2 separate regions of the Homo sapiens genome follow, and region 1 is linked to region 2. Evidence: fine-mapped QTL for protein levels in blood plasma. A gene starts in region 2. The other region holds a variant in brackets. All regions are shown on one strand. Distances are from middle to middle.

Region 1 (8,547 bases), 13 kb after region 2:
GCCCATGCTGGCCTCAGGCAGGTGGGAGCCTGTAGGGAACCATGGGAGGGACCTGCTCCACCCTAAACCAGGATGTATGCACGCTAACCCCTGGCTTCCTACCTGATGCTGCTGTGACCCTCCTGAGTCAATTCCCTTCATTCTGGGCCTCCCTCTGTTCTAGCTGTGTGGCTGCCTGCCCCACTCCCACCAGGCAGGGAGGATGTGCCTGTCACAATACCTCCTTTGATCTTTGGGAATGCTTTAGGAAAACATCTGTTGAATGTTGGTTCAGCAGGTTTGGGCCTTGTGCCTCTCTGCCCTGGGGACCATGTATGGGCTGGGCCCCCATCCCTTAGGCACAGAATCAGCATTCAGAGCAGGGACATATCCATGTTTCTTCCCATCCTGCCTCTTCTGTATCCAAGCAGTGGACACATTGTGCTAAATGCTGGGGTCCCATCAGAGGAAGCAAGTCCTGCCACCTCCTCCTCCTAGTGATGAGATGGTGAGTGATCCTGGGTTTCCGTAGGAACCAGGGGCATCCCACTGTCCCTCAAAACATGTCATAAAGGGCCAGGCGCGGTGGCTCACGCCTGTAATCCCAGCGCTTTGGGAGGCCGAGGCGGGTGGATCATGAGGTCAGGAGATCGAGACCATCCTGGCTAACAAGGTGAAACCCCGTCTCTACTAAAAAATACAAAAAATTAGCTGGGTGCGGTGGCGGGCGCCTGTAGTCCCAGCTACTCGGGAGGCTGAGGCAGGAGAATGGCGTGAACCCGGGAAGCGGAGCTTGCAGTGAGCCGAGATTGCGCCACTGCAGCCCGCAGTCCGGCCTGGGCGACAGAGCGAGACTCCGTCTCAAAAAAAAAACAAAACAAAACAAAAAACATGTCATAAAGAAGTCACAGCACTTCCTGCCCTTTTTCCAGCTCTTGGCTCCTCTGTGGTAGGTCAGAAGGGGAATGCAGAGGTGCCACCTCCTGAGGGATAATAGCTGTCCAAAATCGATGTCCCTTCCATCTTCTCAGGGCAGCTTCTTTGTCTTCCTGCTTCCCAATCCTCTCATCCCACCCATATAACCTCCCTGGTCCCTCACCTCACTGAGCACTAGGATGCCATCTCTGCCCTGTTTCTCCATCTCCAGCCTCATGCTCTTGCGCAGTCTCCATGCATTTAGAGCTTTCTCTGTGAGCTCTCCTGCTGGTACAGTGTTCCAAGAGCACCTGCTGCACAGATATCAGCAGCAGCTTTGATCACCTTTTCACCCACCTATGTACTCACAACCAACTGCTTGGGACCTAACAGAAACTTTCCATGGTAACTTCCAGAATCTTTCTCCACCTCCAGCTTTCCCGCTTTGGTTCTCCATACGGTTCCCCCTTCCCACAGACACGGTCCCTTCCCAGGTCCTCACTCATCCCTCTGGGTCTTTGCCCACACTCCCTTATATGTGGAAGAATCCTTTCTTCTAATCCATGAAGTCCTCCCTCATTAACTCTACCTTCTCTCTACCACCAGTGAAGTTCTGTATTTTTAGCCAAAGCCAGACTGTCAACTTGGGGACTTGCTCCCATTCCTTCACTTCTGAACCACAACATTGTTCCAGCAGTTCTCCCCTTGAGCTCCTGCATCATTAATTTATCCATCTCCACTGGATGTTTTCCATTAACATCCACCATGCTATGTCTCCAGTCTTTTTTGAAAAGCCATTTTGGGTTCTAATGCCTCACATTTCTGTATCTTTATTTGAACAGACCTCTTTGAGGAGTTTATGTTACCCTTTCTAACACTAATTGCTGTCTTTCCATTCTCTCTCTCTCTCTCTCTCTCTCTCTCTCTCTCGATGGAGTTTTGCTCTTGTCGCCCAGGCTGGAATGCAATGGCACAGTCTGGGCTCACTGCAACCTCCACCTCCTGGGTTCAAGTGATTCTCCTCAGCCTCCTGAGTAGCTGGGATTACAGGTGCGCACCACCACGCCCAGATAATTTTTGTATTTTTACTAGAGACAGAGTTTCACCATGTTGGCCAGGCTGGTCTCGAACTCTTGACCTCAGGTGATCCACCTGCCTCGGCCTCCCAAAGTGCCAGGATTACAGGTGTGAGCCACTGTGCCCAGCCGTCCACTCTCTCTGGAATCCACTCCAGTCACACCTTCATCTCCATCATTCACCTGAGGCTGCTCCTGTTAAGGTCATCAATGATCTCTGTGTGGCTAAATCTAACACGCCTCATCTTAATTGGCTGACTGGCAACTTTTCATGCAGTTGATCTCTCCTTGAAAAACATTTTTGTTTGGCTTCTAGTATTCCACACTCATCTTGTTTTCCTTCCATCTCACTGGCCACTGCTTGTCAGTTTCCTCTGTTTACTAGTCCCTCCTTTACTTTCCAGTTTCTTAACATAGAAGAGTCTCAGGGCCTACTCCTTAGATGTCTCCATTTACACTTAGTTGTTTGGTGTGTTATCCAGTTGCATGGTTTTTTCTTTCTCACTCTCTCTGTATTATCTGAAGCCAGGACCCTCCCTGAGGACCATCAGGCTTCTGTGTTGAGGATAAACTGTTGGTTGAATAGTCTCAGGATGAAATGGGGAGATTAGTTATGATGCTACTGGAGTGATGGTAGCAGTAGAGAGGGTGAGAAGTGGGCATTTTCTCGATGCATGCTTGAAGGTAGAGAGAACAGGATTTACTGTGGGTTAGGAAAAAAATCAAGGATAACACCATTGTTTTTGTCCTAAATAACTGGAAAGATGGAGCTGCCATTCACTGAAGTGAGAAATATCATGAATACAGTGGGTTTGGTATGTGTGACTGAGTGGTGGTGAAGGGTAGAAAACCAGTTCGTTTATTTTTGTATGGTTTGAGATGAATATTGGACTTCTAAGTTTATAATTTGACTGGACAATTTGGGAGTAATAGACTGTCGACCCCATGGGATCATGAGCTCCACTGGGTCAAGGCCTGTGTCATGTTCATTGATGTGTTTTGCATAGTTCTTGGCACGTAATAAACACTCAGATATTTAATTGTTGAAAACAAGATGCTTCTCAAAGTAATTTTTATTATGGGTTCCTCCTCACCAGCTGATTGCTTCCTCCTGTGGCACTACCACACACCTCATAGCCCCATTAAAATGATCAATGCTTTGTCTGTCTCCACAGCCCTGACTTTGGATTCAACTAATGTAAGGTCTTACTATGCATTAGCCACTCTCCTAGGCCCTGGAGTTATGGGACAGTGGAAAATATTCTGGTGGGATGGATGGTAAATGTTCAGAAATCAAGCATGACCTTTAACTTCAGTGCACTCTAGATAAAAGCTTTTCTTCTTTGATGTGGAATGGTGACCCATCTGAAAGGTAAGTTAAAGCTCCTTCCCTAGACAGGAAGGACTTTTTAGCCTCCCTCACACCTTCCCTTAACACAATACAGCAGAGACAAGGAG[C/A]AGACAGACAATGTATTGCTGAGAAATATAGAGTGTATTTCTAGTGGCATCTGTCCCACCTGCACATTTATGGAAATGACAATACTGGTCCTCTGGAGGGCTGCAGCAGTTGGGGAGCCTATAAACTCTTTTTCATGGCTCTGCATGTTCTCCTTGAGCGGACCAATGTTTCTATCTGAGGTGAGGGTCAGGAGCTAGGTTGGGTGCCCTGGTTTGTTGGCACAAGCCTCTCGAGGACAGTGACGAGGGCAGTGGCGGGGGTAGCCCAGGGCTGAGGCAGAGCCAGGTTGTCTGGAGTGTAGCCGGAGCTTATCGTCTAGGGATTGGGGACCATCCAAGAAGGCTGGGCCCACCAGCTTCTGAGCAGGACGAGATTGGGCCTTGGAGCACCCTGTCGGCTTCTCCGTCTTACTTCTCCCCACAGGGCTCTTGGCTGGAGCCAGGCTCTTTGCAACATTTTCTTTTCTGGTTTTGGCCACCTTCGCAGCGGCTGAGAACATGGAGTCCTCATGCCCTTTGCCTTTTGTCTTGGGGTTAATATGCTGCAGAAAACATTTAATTTTATTTCTGAAGCTAGACTCTGTAAGGCTGGGCTTCTTTTGAGCATGGACTGGCATCACCAGCCCATGCAAAACTTGGCCTTGCAAAGTTTGGCCCTGCAAAGGCTTAGCCTGAGTTGGTTGGCTCAGGAAAGGCTGACCCTGTGAAGCCTGGGGCAACACAGTCTGGGCATTCTCAGGAATTGTCGCTGGTTCAAGGATGACAGTTAGCTTGGTTTGACTGTCTTGCAGGTCCTTCTCAGACTCTTTCTCCCCAGGGACTCGTGGAGGTAGCTGTGGGAGCTTAAGCTGAGGGTGATGCTGGGGGCTGTGTTGACAGGGATCAGCAAGATGAAAGCTACGGCTCCATCGCCAGGACCCTCGGGGTGTCTTGTTTGGAAGCATCCCTGCTGGCCTCTGGTCTTCAGCAGGGCGTCTCTCTTCTCTGGTTGAGGAGCGCCCAAACCCCGCATCCCCTTCTCTGTGGTCCCTGGCTGCTTTGGTTTCCTCTGGGTCCTCTCTGTTTCCTGCTAGCATGGGGACATGGGCTGGGTCCTTGCTCTTGCTAGGGCTTTGAGGCTCAGGGCCACAGGGTTCCTCCAGGCTGGGTTTGTTCACATTGGCCTCTACCTGAACACAAGGCATGTGGGCCTCTGTCATGTCCCCACTGGGCTGTGAGATCTTGGAGACCGAGTGGGCAGAACCCTGGGGTACAGCTTTGGAATTGGATTGCTTTTGGTTCTGCTGCACTGCCTTCAAGTCATTGGCCAGCTGTTCTTTAAGGTGAACCCCTTCTGGATTAGGGGCAGGAAGAGTGTCTGGTGGGATGGGCAGTTCCTGGAGCAATGTCTCCCCTTGGTGGTTTAGACTTTCAAGAGACTTCTGTGTGGATATGTTCTCTGGTGCTGCAACAGTTTGTTCCCTGGACTTCCTTGCCCTAATGGGAATTCCCCATTGTATCTCTAGGACCTTTTTTCTCAGGTGGAAGTTTAGTTTGGTCAAGATATGTGTCTGGAGTGAGTGGGGGCTAGTAGGATGCGTCTGGCTTTCTAGAGGCAGCGTCTCCATTGTTCCTTTTACTGGCACTGCAGGCTGGAACTCTTTTGCAACGTCTGTACAACTCTCATTGTTGCCTTGAGGGCATGGCCCAAGACTTATACACTGTTCTTCAAATGAAACCATCTGAATCAGAGGCTCTGCTGGGATTTCCACGGGACTAGGCTCCATCTCTGTGATGACAGATTGGCTAGTGACTGCCGGGGCCAGGGCCCTGGGGAGCGCCACATAATACAGAGCAGGCAGCCCCGACAGGAAGGCCAGATGCTTGTGCCGTAAAGTTGTCTCCAGTTTCTCAATGGCTTCCACAGACAAGACTCGGAGCAGCTTAGGGTGTTCAGTGACAGTACCTGGTAAAGCCTGTTGCTGCTGATCAAGGGCCGTTGGCATCCAGGGCATAACTTTGTGATGCAGGTCCGGGTCACTTGCTGTCTGCAGTTCCAGGAACTGGCTTTCTGGAATGCAGGGAAAAGGAGCCACTGCCAGGACCCCAGAAATTCTGCAGTCCCAGGACCTGTGTACACAGGCGGGGATCTTGCCCTGGTGGATTTGTCCACATTTGGAGTCGATGTGGCTCTGCAGTATTGCCTTGACCTGAGTTAACAAGTGTGGCCTGGGGATGGACACTGGGGCCGCAATGGGTGACAGCACATCGCAAGCCCCGTTGGCCTCTAGGGCTACAGGCTGGGGGATGCTCACGTTGGCTAGGGCTGTGCTGCTGCTGGACACAGTCTGCTGATCAGTGGAGGTAAGGAGCAACTGGATGGACTGCTGGATCTTCTGAGGCAGGCCCCAGCGATGGCGAATCAACTGTTTCTGGATGTGGAATTCCAGCAGCTTCCGGGCATGCTCCGGGAAGAAGAGTAGTTCCCTGGTGAGCACTGAGATGGACTTCCCTGTCTGGGAAGCTGTCGTGGTCTCAGGAGACTGAGCTTTGCCACAGGGCTCATGCTGCATGAGGCACTGGGTGTGCTGAGACCTCTGGAGGGCAGCTGGCCAGCCCCACTGAAGCTGGAGTTGCCTCTGTAGCAGGTGCCACTCCAAGGCTTCATACTCAGCCAGAGTCAGAAATGGGACATTGATCTGAGCTCGTTGATGGTCAGATGGAGACATCCAGTTTGGGGAAAGTGGGGAAGAGGGTGGGGCTGACTGGGGTGAAGTTTTAGGGAGCAGTTGGGGGAAGGAGAGCTCATTGAAGAGAAAAGGATCCTTCAAGGGGGGCTTGGGCACATTTTCAATCTTGGGGAGGCCTTGAGATCCCATGAAAGTGGCAACCAGGGACTCACTGTGCAGAGAAGGGAGCCCACAGAATAGCTGGCTGTATTTCTGCTGGAGATCACTCCCTGAGTCATTATCTTGTCCCCCAGACTGTGGATGGGGGCCACTTAGGGCTTTAAGGGCTGGAGAGGGCAAGGCTAGAGCCATAGGGTTTGGAGTTTGCTGACAGTGGTGTCTTTGTTCTGGGTTCATTGTGGACCATTCAGAAACCCAGAAGGTCTGGATGGGCTGGCCAGCCACACATGAACACCAGGTCTGGAGGGAAATGGTCTCAAATCTATGAAGAGAGACCTGAGGAGTATTCTTCAGGTTGAAAGAAACTGGCTGGTCATTTCCAGGTTGGTAATACAATGGTGGGTTTGGCATAAGCTGCCTCAGGGACTCCTCCACACGTCTTGGGAGCCCCCACCTCTGGAAATGCATCCATTTTTTAACATGTACCTCAAGAAGCCTCAGCACTTCAGGACTGAGAAATGGCAGGTGGGCAGGGAGGACCATATGCAAGGCCATTGGATGCATCCGGTTCAGGGTTTCTGGGTTCAGGGACAGCAAGGAGACCTGGGAATTCAAGTGATGCTGGCCTTGGTTTCCCTGGACAAGGCTGGGGTTGCTCTGCGTCATCTCCTCCTGGTTCAGTGGAGCCCTTGGCTTCTCAATCCTTGAAGAAGCTATGGTGTTTGGGCCCCGGAGCACATCTGGCACTTGAAATTCCTGCCCTAGCTGGAGGTGATCAGCCCAGTAATCTTGTATGCCATCTGCATACGTTGACTGGGCAGCTGACTGGGTTAAAGATTTCTGATCTGTTAATTGTGACAGTGTTGGGGTTACAGATGACAGTGAAAGCTCTCTGGTGTGCCAGGAATGAAACTCCAGACTCTGATCTAAAGACATACTAGACGTAGACAGCATCTCTAGGCAAGAGGAGCCCTGCAATGGCCCCGATAAAGTCAGGGAGATCTGGTTGTTCTCACCCACCAGCAATTGCTGAATCTCCAGAGCCACAGAATTGCAGATTTGGCAGCAGGGATCTGCACACAGGATTCGCCGCACACTTCTCTCCAGAGGAAGCCAGCCCTGGCTAGGAAGGGAAACACGGCAAAATTAACGATGGAGTGACATCTGCCTTCTTGGAAGAGTGTGGGCTGGAGTGGGCACTCTCCTTTCCCAGTCCTGAAAACCCTGGGGCCTATACCATCTTGTTGTCTACCTGTCTGCTTTCCTTGCTAAGAAAATGCCATTTGGCAAGGTGTGGTGGGCTGGGCTGATGGTCTGGAGCTTGTTGGGCAAGGCCTCAGACAACCCATGGGAGGGCATGGCCCTCAGAGAGGGCTGGGAGTTGGAGTCAGTTCTCTGTTGACCTTGTTGAAAAGCTGAACTAGGAGAATGGAGCTAGGCAGTTAGCTGATGGGGCATCACCAGGAACATCACCAGTTAGAACCCAGACCAGTCTTATTTGAGGCTAAGAAATCCAAAGCCTGTATTCAGTACTTCCAAGCTGTAGAAAATGAGGTCCTTGTGGGACTTCTGCATTCTGGGGTATTTGGTACCCGTAATGTTATACCCAGCATCTCTTCGGAACCAGTCCTGTTCTCTAGAGCTCTTAAGGAGAGGATAATATAATAGACTCCTGTCTAAGGAGTGTCCCAAGTACTGGCCTCACTGAAGACAGAACCGGAGGAGGTCATGTCAGCAGAGTCTAGCCAGAGTCAGGTATTTTCCCTTGAAAGGGTATAGCTTTATTCCCTTGAAAGAGTATAAAGAGAATAAGACAAGGATGACTTCTTTATTCAAAACCCATTCTCTTAACTGGGTAACTTATCTCATGGCTGAGTGCAGCTCCATGTAATATGTTTTATGAATTATACACTAGTAAAATCCTGAATTGTAGAACTGCTGTTACCCTAGCACAGAACTGAACTGGGCAGCTCATCTCTCCTGAGACATGTGAACCCCACTCTTCCCTGGCAACCCTCTCACCCAGTGTCCCTGCTTCCACTGTGTATGTCTCCCTCCCAGCCATTATCTTTCTCCTTAGTCCTGCCCCAGGCCAAGCCAAGAAATCATCATAGGCCAGGCTGGTTGTTGATAGAGTGCAAAGAGCAATAGATCACCTTTTAATGATGGAGAGCAGCTTCTGTGGCTTCTCAGCTTCTTCCCGGGAACGTCTCCTAGCTGAGGAACGGGGAGACAGTGTTATATGGCATGGGATAATTTCATAGGCATCCTATAGGAAGCTGAATAGTAAG
Region 2 (8,547 bases):
GTAGGAAGTCATCTGGTAATGTTTAAAATAGGTAAATCAAGAAACAGAGGTATAGGCAAAGTACTTAGACATATGGCACTAAGAAATAGCATAGGAGTTAAAGTTGTAGGAAATTATGTTATTCAGAATAAACCTTTTGGTACTTTTGGATATATTTTTTAACTGTGAGTGTGTATTATGTGATATTTTTTGAATTATGCATCAAGAGAATAAGAGAGAAAAGAGAAAGAACAGGACAATGTTGTCAAAGATGAAGGCAGACAAGGAGAGTGGCCAGTCATGATCTGATGGAATAAATAATATATTGCATGCTTACTCAGAGCAGGGCTTGAGGCAAATACCAGGCATGCAGGTGTGGCAGGAGAATTTAGTGAAATAGAGAGTTTTGTTTTTTCTGCCTATGTTTTTCTTTTCACTATAGAGTAGGCAAGAGTTTTGGCAGGGCTGGGAGTGATGTCCTGATGTCAAAGGGAGCCTGACGTCAAAGGCCTTTTGTAAATGTCTTACACCAGGGGAAAATGCCGGGCATAGAGGCTCACACCTGTAATCCCAGCAACTTGGAGCCTGAGGCAGGAGGATCCCTTGAGCCCAGGAGTTTGAGGTTACAGTGAGCTATGATCCTACCTTTGCACTCCAGCCTGGACTACAAAGCAAGCCTTAAAAAAAAAAAAAAGTAAACTTGTAAACTTGGGGAAGAGGTTATGCCCTGGAGGGGCTGAGGAGAGGGAGACAATTGTTTAGGACTGCGAAGGGATTAGTGTGTACATCCAGCCAGAGTGGGCACTGGGCTCTAATTTCTGTCTGTGATGGGGCAAGTGACAGGACTGTTGAGTAGATGGCTTCGGGGGTATCTGGGGAGGTCAAGTCCAAGCCCAGAGGCTGTCATATCTGAATTCTTATGTCTCAAATGTGGAGTCTAGGACTTGAAGAGATATACCTGCTGGAACCACAGGGGTCAGAACACTCACTGGCGAGACTGATGTCCAATGATAGGATGGTGTAGGAGGCAGGTAGGAGGCCTCCCTTGGGCCTTGAGGTTTCTGTGACCTTTGCATAACCCTTGGCAGGTGGGATCCCACAAGAGTGCCTGATGTTGAATTTCTCATCAGCACTCTAGTGCAGTAGCTTGGAGTAGGAATTAAGTTCATTTAAGGAACATTTCAAAAGTAGTATTTCTTGCATATCTGAGTTTATAGATTAATTTCACACCTGCTGCCCTAGGACAGGCAGGGGAGAGGCCCTGTCTTCACCTGCTGCAAGAGGAGCAGACAAGCCAATACTTGAGGATGTTAGGATAGGTGGTAAGTGCTGTGGCATACTCAGGCTCCTACAGAAGGAAAAGTTGATGGAGCAGCCACTTCTAGCTTCTGAGGTTCCTACCTTTCTTCTTCTTCTTCTCCTCCTTTTTTTTTCTTTTCCTGAAATGGAGTCTTGCTCTTGTCGCCCAGACTGGAGTGCAATGGCACAATCGATCTCACCTCACTGCAACCTCCGCCTCCTGGGTTCAAGTGATTCTCCTTCCTCAGCCTCCCGAGTAGCTGGGATTACAGGCGCCCGCCACAATGCCCGGCTAATTTTTGTATTTTTAGTAGAGACGGGGTTTCACCATGTTGGCCAGGCTGGTCAGGAACTCCTGACCTCATGATCCGCCTGCCTTGGCCTCCCAAAGTGCTGGGATTACAGGCCTGAGCCACCGCGCCCGGCCTTGAGGTTCCTACCTTTCTTGCCCTTCCCCAGGATCTGTTCCCTTCTTTCTCACATTGTCTGGCCCAATCTGATGGCTTCTACTCTCCCCGCCTGGAGGTGATTTGGGGAATAGAAGGGTCTTCACTCTGGGGAGGAAGAGGTAGAGGAGAGCCATCTGAGGCCTTCCAGGAGAGGAGACTGATTCACACCTGAATCCTGGGGTTCTGAAAACCTGCCCCAGGAGACTTATTCCTTGACTTCAAAGGGTTAAATGGGCTAAAGTAGTCTGGATCCCAGCCAGGAAAGAAAGGAGGAAAAAAAAAGGGAGGAGGTTTTTCCATCTGGAAGGAGGCTGAGTGAGTCCAGGGGCCCAGATAGGAATAGAAGGAGAGCACAACAGCCCCATTAAACAAAGAGGAGAGGTCAAGGCCCGAGCTTCACTGAATAGGGCTGAAGCAAGTCCCCTCGGGTCTTTGCCTCCCAGGGGCTCTCTCAGGGCTGGAACTGTGCTAGGGCAGGTTTCAATATAACTTGTGTTTGTCTGTGTTATAGATGGGCCCAAGCCACAGCTTCCCTCCTAGGGACCCTTCCAAAGAACCACTTGGAGGGTCTCATTGAATAGTTCCCAGGGAAAAGAGAGGAAGCCTCTGGGATATCTGGGGAAAGGTCTGAAGGTCATGGAAAAGATCCGAAGGTCACCCCTGGAGTTAGTGCAGGACAGAATCAGGGTCTCAGAGGTCTGCAGAGCTGTTGGGGGTGTGTGCTCCATGTCCACCACCTCTCCATTGGCAGGATGCCTCAGAAGACTGGGTCCTACCCTGTCCTTCAGCCTCCCTTTAACTGCTCAGGGGTGCAGGCACCTGAGAGGCAAGGAAACTCTTGGGGTAGATGAGAACATAGCATTTTTCAGCCTGAGCTTTCGGCTCAGAGTGTGTGACCCCACCCTGTAGGAACCTTGGCATCTCGGTGGACATAAACACATGGGAACAGGTACTTGGGTGGGAAGACAGAACAGCTTTTTATTCAGTTAGGTATAAATCATATTTACAAGGAAGAGGTGGGGTGTACTGGGGAGCCGTATCAGGTCCAGGGTCCTGATGATTCTCCTTCAAGGGGACAGTCCTGCTGCCTCCTCTCATGCTCCCTGGGAGACTCTCCCTCCTCGGTCTCTCTGGACCTGGCCTGCTGTGGGCAGCTCAGCCATGCAGGGTAGAGCTGGGAATGCAGATGGGGTGGTTAAAGCAGGAGAAAGAGTGTGGCAAGGCCAGCATGGGGTGGCTGCTCCAGGGCCCCTGAGCATAGCCTCCTTCTTGCATCTTGGGTTCAGGCTTCAAGCGCTGGTGAGGCTGGTGGGGTCTCCAGGGCTCCAGGCTGCTCACTGGGCTATGGCCCTTTAGGGGTCTGTGACCGCTCAGTCCTGTGAGGGCAGAAGAGGGGTGTGAGGGGCTGACTGAGGCTCCCCTTTACCCACATCCCTCAGATTCCTCACCTCTTGCAGCCTTTGGAGCCCTTTCCTTTCTTGCCAGTCTTGGAGGCCCCCCTGTCCTTCCTGCAGCCCTGGGCTGGTTTCTGTGGGGATGGTGTCTTGTCCAGATGCTGCATCAGCTGCTGCACCCAGAGCTCCTTTGGGTCTGCACATAGCTCTGCCTGAGAGCGCTTGCGGGGCAAGAACCTGCGGGTGGGGGCTAGTAAGCCTTCTTAGTCTTGCCCACCATGCCCTCCCCACCCCGTCACCAGCCAGTACCCACCCCTTTGTGTCCACTCACAGGATAGCTGGGATGGAGCAGCCTAAGCTTGGTTCCTGCTTCCGGTAGCTGCGGACAACCTTGGCGGGAATCTTCCTTTGGCTGTACTTGAGGCAACAGTCCTGAGCCCCTCCATCACTGCCTGCAGGGTGGGATTCACAGGGAGCCAGGGGCTGCTGGCAAGCTCCTATCCAGGCCTCTTGATCCCCTTAGCCCCATGCAAGGCCCCTCCCTGCCTTGGTACCTTGGGTCCTGGGGATGCCAAAGGCCAGAACCAGGATAAGGAGGCTCAGAGCCAGTGACTGAGCCATGTCTGTGGTAGAGGGTGAGTAAGAGGCCAGAGCTGAGGGTGAGGTGGGCAGCTGCAAGTTGGGGGTCTGTGCGTGGGCTGGGATTGGCCTGCTATTTATGTAGCTAGACACTTTCACTTCCCTTAACTTATCCCCACTCCTTTTCCTTCCTGAAAGCTGGATTTGCTGGCACCCAGCCCCACTTATCTCAAACTAAGTGGACAGTCCTCAGCTGCCAAATTTTATGTCCTCATTAGTTGAATATGTCTGGGCCTGAGCCTTCCTTCTATTCCCAGCTACTGCTTTCATGCAGGCCTCACTGCCTCTCCCCTGGAACACCATGACTGTCTCCTCACTACGCTCCAGGATCCATACCCTTCCCCTCCTTCCAGCAAATCTGATTATTAAATTGTAAGAGTTCTTTTTTTTTTTTTTTTTTTTGAGACAGGGTCTAACTCTGTCACCCAGGCTGGAGTGCAGTGGTTGATCTTGGCTCACTGAAATCTCCGCCTCCTGGGCTCGAGTGATCCTCCTACCTCAACCTCCCCAGGAGCTGGGACTACAGGCAAGCACCACTGCGCCTGGCTGATTTTTCTATTTTTTTTTTGTAGAGACGAGGTTTCACGATGTCTAGCCCAGGCTAGTCTTGAGCTCCTGGGCTCAAATGATCTGCCTGCCTCAGCCTCTTGAGGAGCTGGGACCACAGGCACATGCCACTACGTCCGGCTACTGTTTTCATTTTTCATTTTTATTTTTTCTAGAGATGAGGTCTTGCTATGTTGCCCAGTCTGGTCTTGAACTCCTGGGCTCAAGCGATCCTCCTGCCTTGGCCACCCAAAGTGCTGGAATTATAGGTATGAGCGACTGCACCTGGTCTGTAGCATAACCATTTTGATTCCCCTTTGCTTTCCTTTTCTATATATTTTGTAGTTATTTTCCTAATGGATACCTTGGTGATTATAATTAACATTCTAAACTGATAACAACCTAGTTTGAATAATACCAACTTAGTTTCAATGGTATATAAACATTTTGCTCGTATACATTTTAGTCCCTTCTTTATATTGTTATTGTCACAGATTACATCTTTATACATTGTGTTCCCATTGACATAGATTTATAATTATTGTTTAATGCATTTTCCTTTTAAATTATATAGAAAAAAGTGGGGCTACAAACTAAAAATACAATACTAGCTTTTATCTTTTTTTTTTTTTTTGACACAGGGTCTCGCTTTGTCACCCAGGCTGGAGTGCGGTGGCACAATCTCAGCTCACAGCAGCCTCGACCTCCTGGGCTCAAGTGATCCTTCCACCTCAGTCTCCTGAGTAGTGGGGCCACCATGCCTGGCTAATTTTTGTATTTTTTGTAGACACGAGGTCTCACTATGTTGCCCAGGCTAGTCTCGAACGCCTGACCTCAAGCAATTCACCCGCCTTGGCCTCCCAAAGTAATGGGATTACAAGTGTGAACCAGCATACCTGGCAATGTTGTTACTTTTTTTTTTTTTTTTTTGAGACAGAGTCTCACTCTTTCGCCCAGGCTGGAGTGCAGTGGCGTGATCTTGGCTCACTGCAACCTCCACCCTCCGGGTTCAAGCCATTCTCCTGCCTCAGCCTCCCGAGTAACTGGGATTATGGGCACCTGTCACCACATCCAGCTAATTTTTCTATTTTTTGTAGAGATGGGGTTTCACCATGTTGGCCTGGTTGGTCTCAAACTCCTGACCTCAAATGATCCGCTCACCTTGGCCTCCCAAAGTGCTGGGATTACAGACATGAGCCACTGCGCCCAGCCTGCTATGTTGTTATGTTTATCAGAGATCTTTGTTTCTTTGTGTGGCTGTGAGTTATTATTTTTTGTCCTTTTGTTTCATTCTGAAGGTCTTCCTTTAGCATTTGTTTGTTTGTTTGTTTGTTTTTTCTTTCTCCCGTTAGCTTTTCTTGTGGGCAGGTCTACTATTAATGAACTTCCTAAGTTTTGTTTATCTGGAAATGTCTTATTTCTCCTTAATTCTTGCAGCATAGTTTTGCTGGATATATAGAATTCTTGTTTGACTTTTTTTTTTCTTCAGTCTTTAAATATATCCCCCATTGTCTTTTGGCCTCCCATGGTTTCTGAAATCAGCTGGTAATCTTATTGAGAATCTCTTGTACATAATGAGTTACTTCTCTCTTGCTGCTTTTAAAATCTTTGGGTTTCAACAATTTGACTATAATTTGTCTTGGTGTGGATCTCTGAGTTTATCCTTCTTAGAGTTTGTGAACTTCTTGGGTATGTATATTCATGCTTTTCATCAGATTTCAGATGTTTTGTCATTATTTCTTCAATTTTTTTAATGCCCTGTTCCCTCTCTTCTCCTCCTGAGACTCCTGTGATGAGGTACATTTGATGGTATCCCTGAGGCTCGTTTATTTTTCTTCTCATACTTGATAATTTTAATTGTCTTATCATCAAGAATACTGATCCTTTTTTTTCTGCTTAAATTAGTTGTTGATTGCCCCTAGTGAATTGTACATTTCAGTTATTGTATTTTTGCTTCCAGAATTTCTGCTTGAGTCCTTTTTTTCTTTTTACTAATTTCCATCTCTTTATTGATAGTTTCATTTTGTTCATACACCATTTTTCAGATTTCCCTTAACTCTTTGCCCATGGTTTCCTTCAGCTCTTTGAGCATATTTAAGACAGTTATTTTTTTTTTCCAAAAGGGCCATTGTTTCCCAATTTAATTTGAGGTCATAATAAAACAAGCAACAAAGCAGTATTTGAGATTTCAGCTTCTCACCCTTATCATCAAACCTCCCATCATCAATATTTATTGAGCATTTACAGTAAGACAGTTAAAGTCTTCATCTACTATGTCCAATATCTGGGCTTCCTCAGGGATAGTCTCTGTCAAATTCCTTTCTTCCTGTGAATGGGCCATACTTTCCTATTTCTTTGTATTAGTAATTTTTTGTTGATAACTGGGCATTCTGAATATTACAGTGTGGTATCTCTAGAAATTCAATTTTTTCACTCCTTAGGGATTGCTGATATACACTTGTTGAGAACTCTGCCATCAATTTGTGGTGACTTTTTCAAACGGTTTTTTGCAAAGTGTGTATTCTTTGTTTTGTGGGGTTACTGAAATTTCTGTTTATGACCTGACAAAGGGTTCTCTTCCTTCCCCGCAAAAAGATTCTGTCCCTTTAAATCTTCTGATATATGTGGCTCAGGAAGATCCTGAAGCCCAAGAGGGCTGAAACAAAGCAAGCCTGTCCCTTAGGGAACCAGAAGACAAACCCAAATGCAAAACCCCTCATTTTTGGAGGACAGGGTTCCCCCTGCCCACTCAGTGACCACCCAGCTACTTCAGGAATGTGGGCTGCTATCCCCACTGTGTTGGTTGGTAGCTAGTGCATGCATTATGCTCTCTTCTGAAAGACCAGCAACCTCTCCCTTCATCAAGTACCACCCCCCCTGCTTGTTATAAGTGTCCAATCGGGCTCCAGACTTCTGAAAGAGTCGATTCCAATTGCTCTTTCCACCTCAATAGTTGCTTTGGTGGAGGGACCAACCCCTATAACTTCTTACTCTGCCATTTTGTATGATGTTTTTCTGTAGTTTAATTTTTAACATTTTAAAATCTTTTATCCATTTGGAGTTTATTATGGTATATGATGTGTGAGGGTTATTGGGTCATAACTTAGAATCTATATTTAATACTGGATTGGGACCTTAGAGTTGTAATCCTCACGTCAGAGCTGGAGAATCCATCTGGTTTCCAGAGTGCTAAACTCAGCAGCAAGCTCCTTACATCTTGTTTTTTGAAGGATGGCTTATGACAGGATAGGGAAACCATAGGAAGAGGAGGAAATGAGTGTCAGGAGAGATGTAGTCAGGACAGCCATGGCCAGAGACAGAAATATTGGGTTGCTCTTGGGGAAGGATGGGATGCAGAAGGCATGGGGTTGAAGATGGAGGTACTGTTGGGAGGGGGATAAAGAGGTGGTGTTTCATTCTAAGGTCCACAGAGTAGAGGGGCTGGAATTTGGTGGCCTAGAGGAGAAATAATTGAGCTCTTGAGTCTGAGGTTTTCAGACTCAAGAGACCTTAAGGCTGAGACCTTAAGCAGGGCAGGGAGTGACTCTGTTGGCAAGAAGCTGGTGTTCCTGGAACAAGACTAGGCAAAAACAAGGAGATAAGATTTCTTGGATCTTTTACCTGGTCTAGAGGCAGATCCTGGAACCAGAAAGTTTTAAATTCCCAGCTCCCTGGTTTCCCCACCTGCCTAATGGGAGTGACTAAGAAAGTAGTGAGCAGCCTGTCTCTGAGGAATTCTCAGACAGATAGAATAGCATGGGCTTGGGAGGGGGCATGCAGATAATTCCGAAGTCATATTATATTAGTTTGCTTCCAAACTTGGCTGCACTTCAGAATCACCTGGGTGACTTTTTAAAAACAGAATTAGAAGCAACACGCCAGACCGCCTTAAATAGAATCTCAGAATAGAGCCAACAAATGTGTATTTTTACCAAGTTCTGCAGGTAATTCTAAGCATTTGGTGGGGTGGGGCTGGGAGAGCCACTTGGGCCTATTCTGCTCCCCATCCCACACTCTAGATTGACACAGAGCCGGTGAAAGGGAACAAAGTTGGTCTGGGGAAAGGAAAGCTGGAGTGATGCCCCCTCTACCTCCCCTGGAGGAGGAGACTTTCTCGCCTGGCACAGATTGTAGAAAAAAAGGAGAGATGGCAGGGAAGAGGAGGGGGCTGTACCTTTTTCTTTCCTAAAAGCTTAGGCTTGCTTTCTCTCCAAGATACCTGCCTGTCTCCCTTACCCTTA

Which allele goes with the higher level. Alleles are on the strand shown, and positions count from the first base shown. The strength of an association depends on the size of the effect and on how common the allele is.
In carriers of allele C in region 1, the plasma level of the protein whose gene starts at base 3,812 in region 2 tends to be higher than with A alone (moderate association).

Evidence for each region. PIP is the chance, under the fine-mapping model, that this variant and not a neighbour inherited with it causes the effect. The UK Biobank Pharma Proteomics Project read protein levels with antibody pairs (Olink). The fine-mapping took linkage between variants from a reference panel, not from the people measured, so its PIPs are less certain.
Region 1: its variant is fine-mapped to the plasma level of the CCL21 protein (UK Biobank, PIP above 0.99).

Annotation. Positions count from the first base shown.
Region 1 is chr9:34,719,610-34,728,156 of GRCh38, forward strand. SPATA31F1 (SPATA31 subfamily F member 1) reads right to left here. Exons shown (of 4, transcript NM_001141917.2): 3 at 8,413-8,473; 4 at 3,444-7,379. The coding sequence ends at 3,623. It also overlaps a transcript of PHF24 not described here. Among named protein-coding and RNA genes, the nearest start is that of SPATA31F1, 5.6 kb to the right of the region's middle. The variant C/A (reference allele first, on the strand shown) is at 3,429.
Region 2 is chr9:34,706,325-34,714,871 of GRCh38, forward strand. CCL21 (C-C motif chemokine ligand 21) reads right to left here and starts at 3,812. Exons shown (of 4, transcript NM_002989.4): 1 at 3,676-3,812; 2 at 3,453-3,573; 3 at 3,176-3,358; 4 at 2,681-3,103. The coding sequence starts at 3,742. The coding sequence ends at 3,070. It also overlaps a transcript of PHF24 not described here.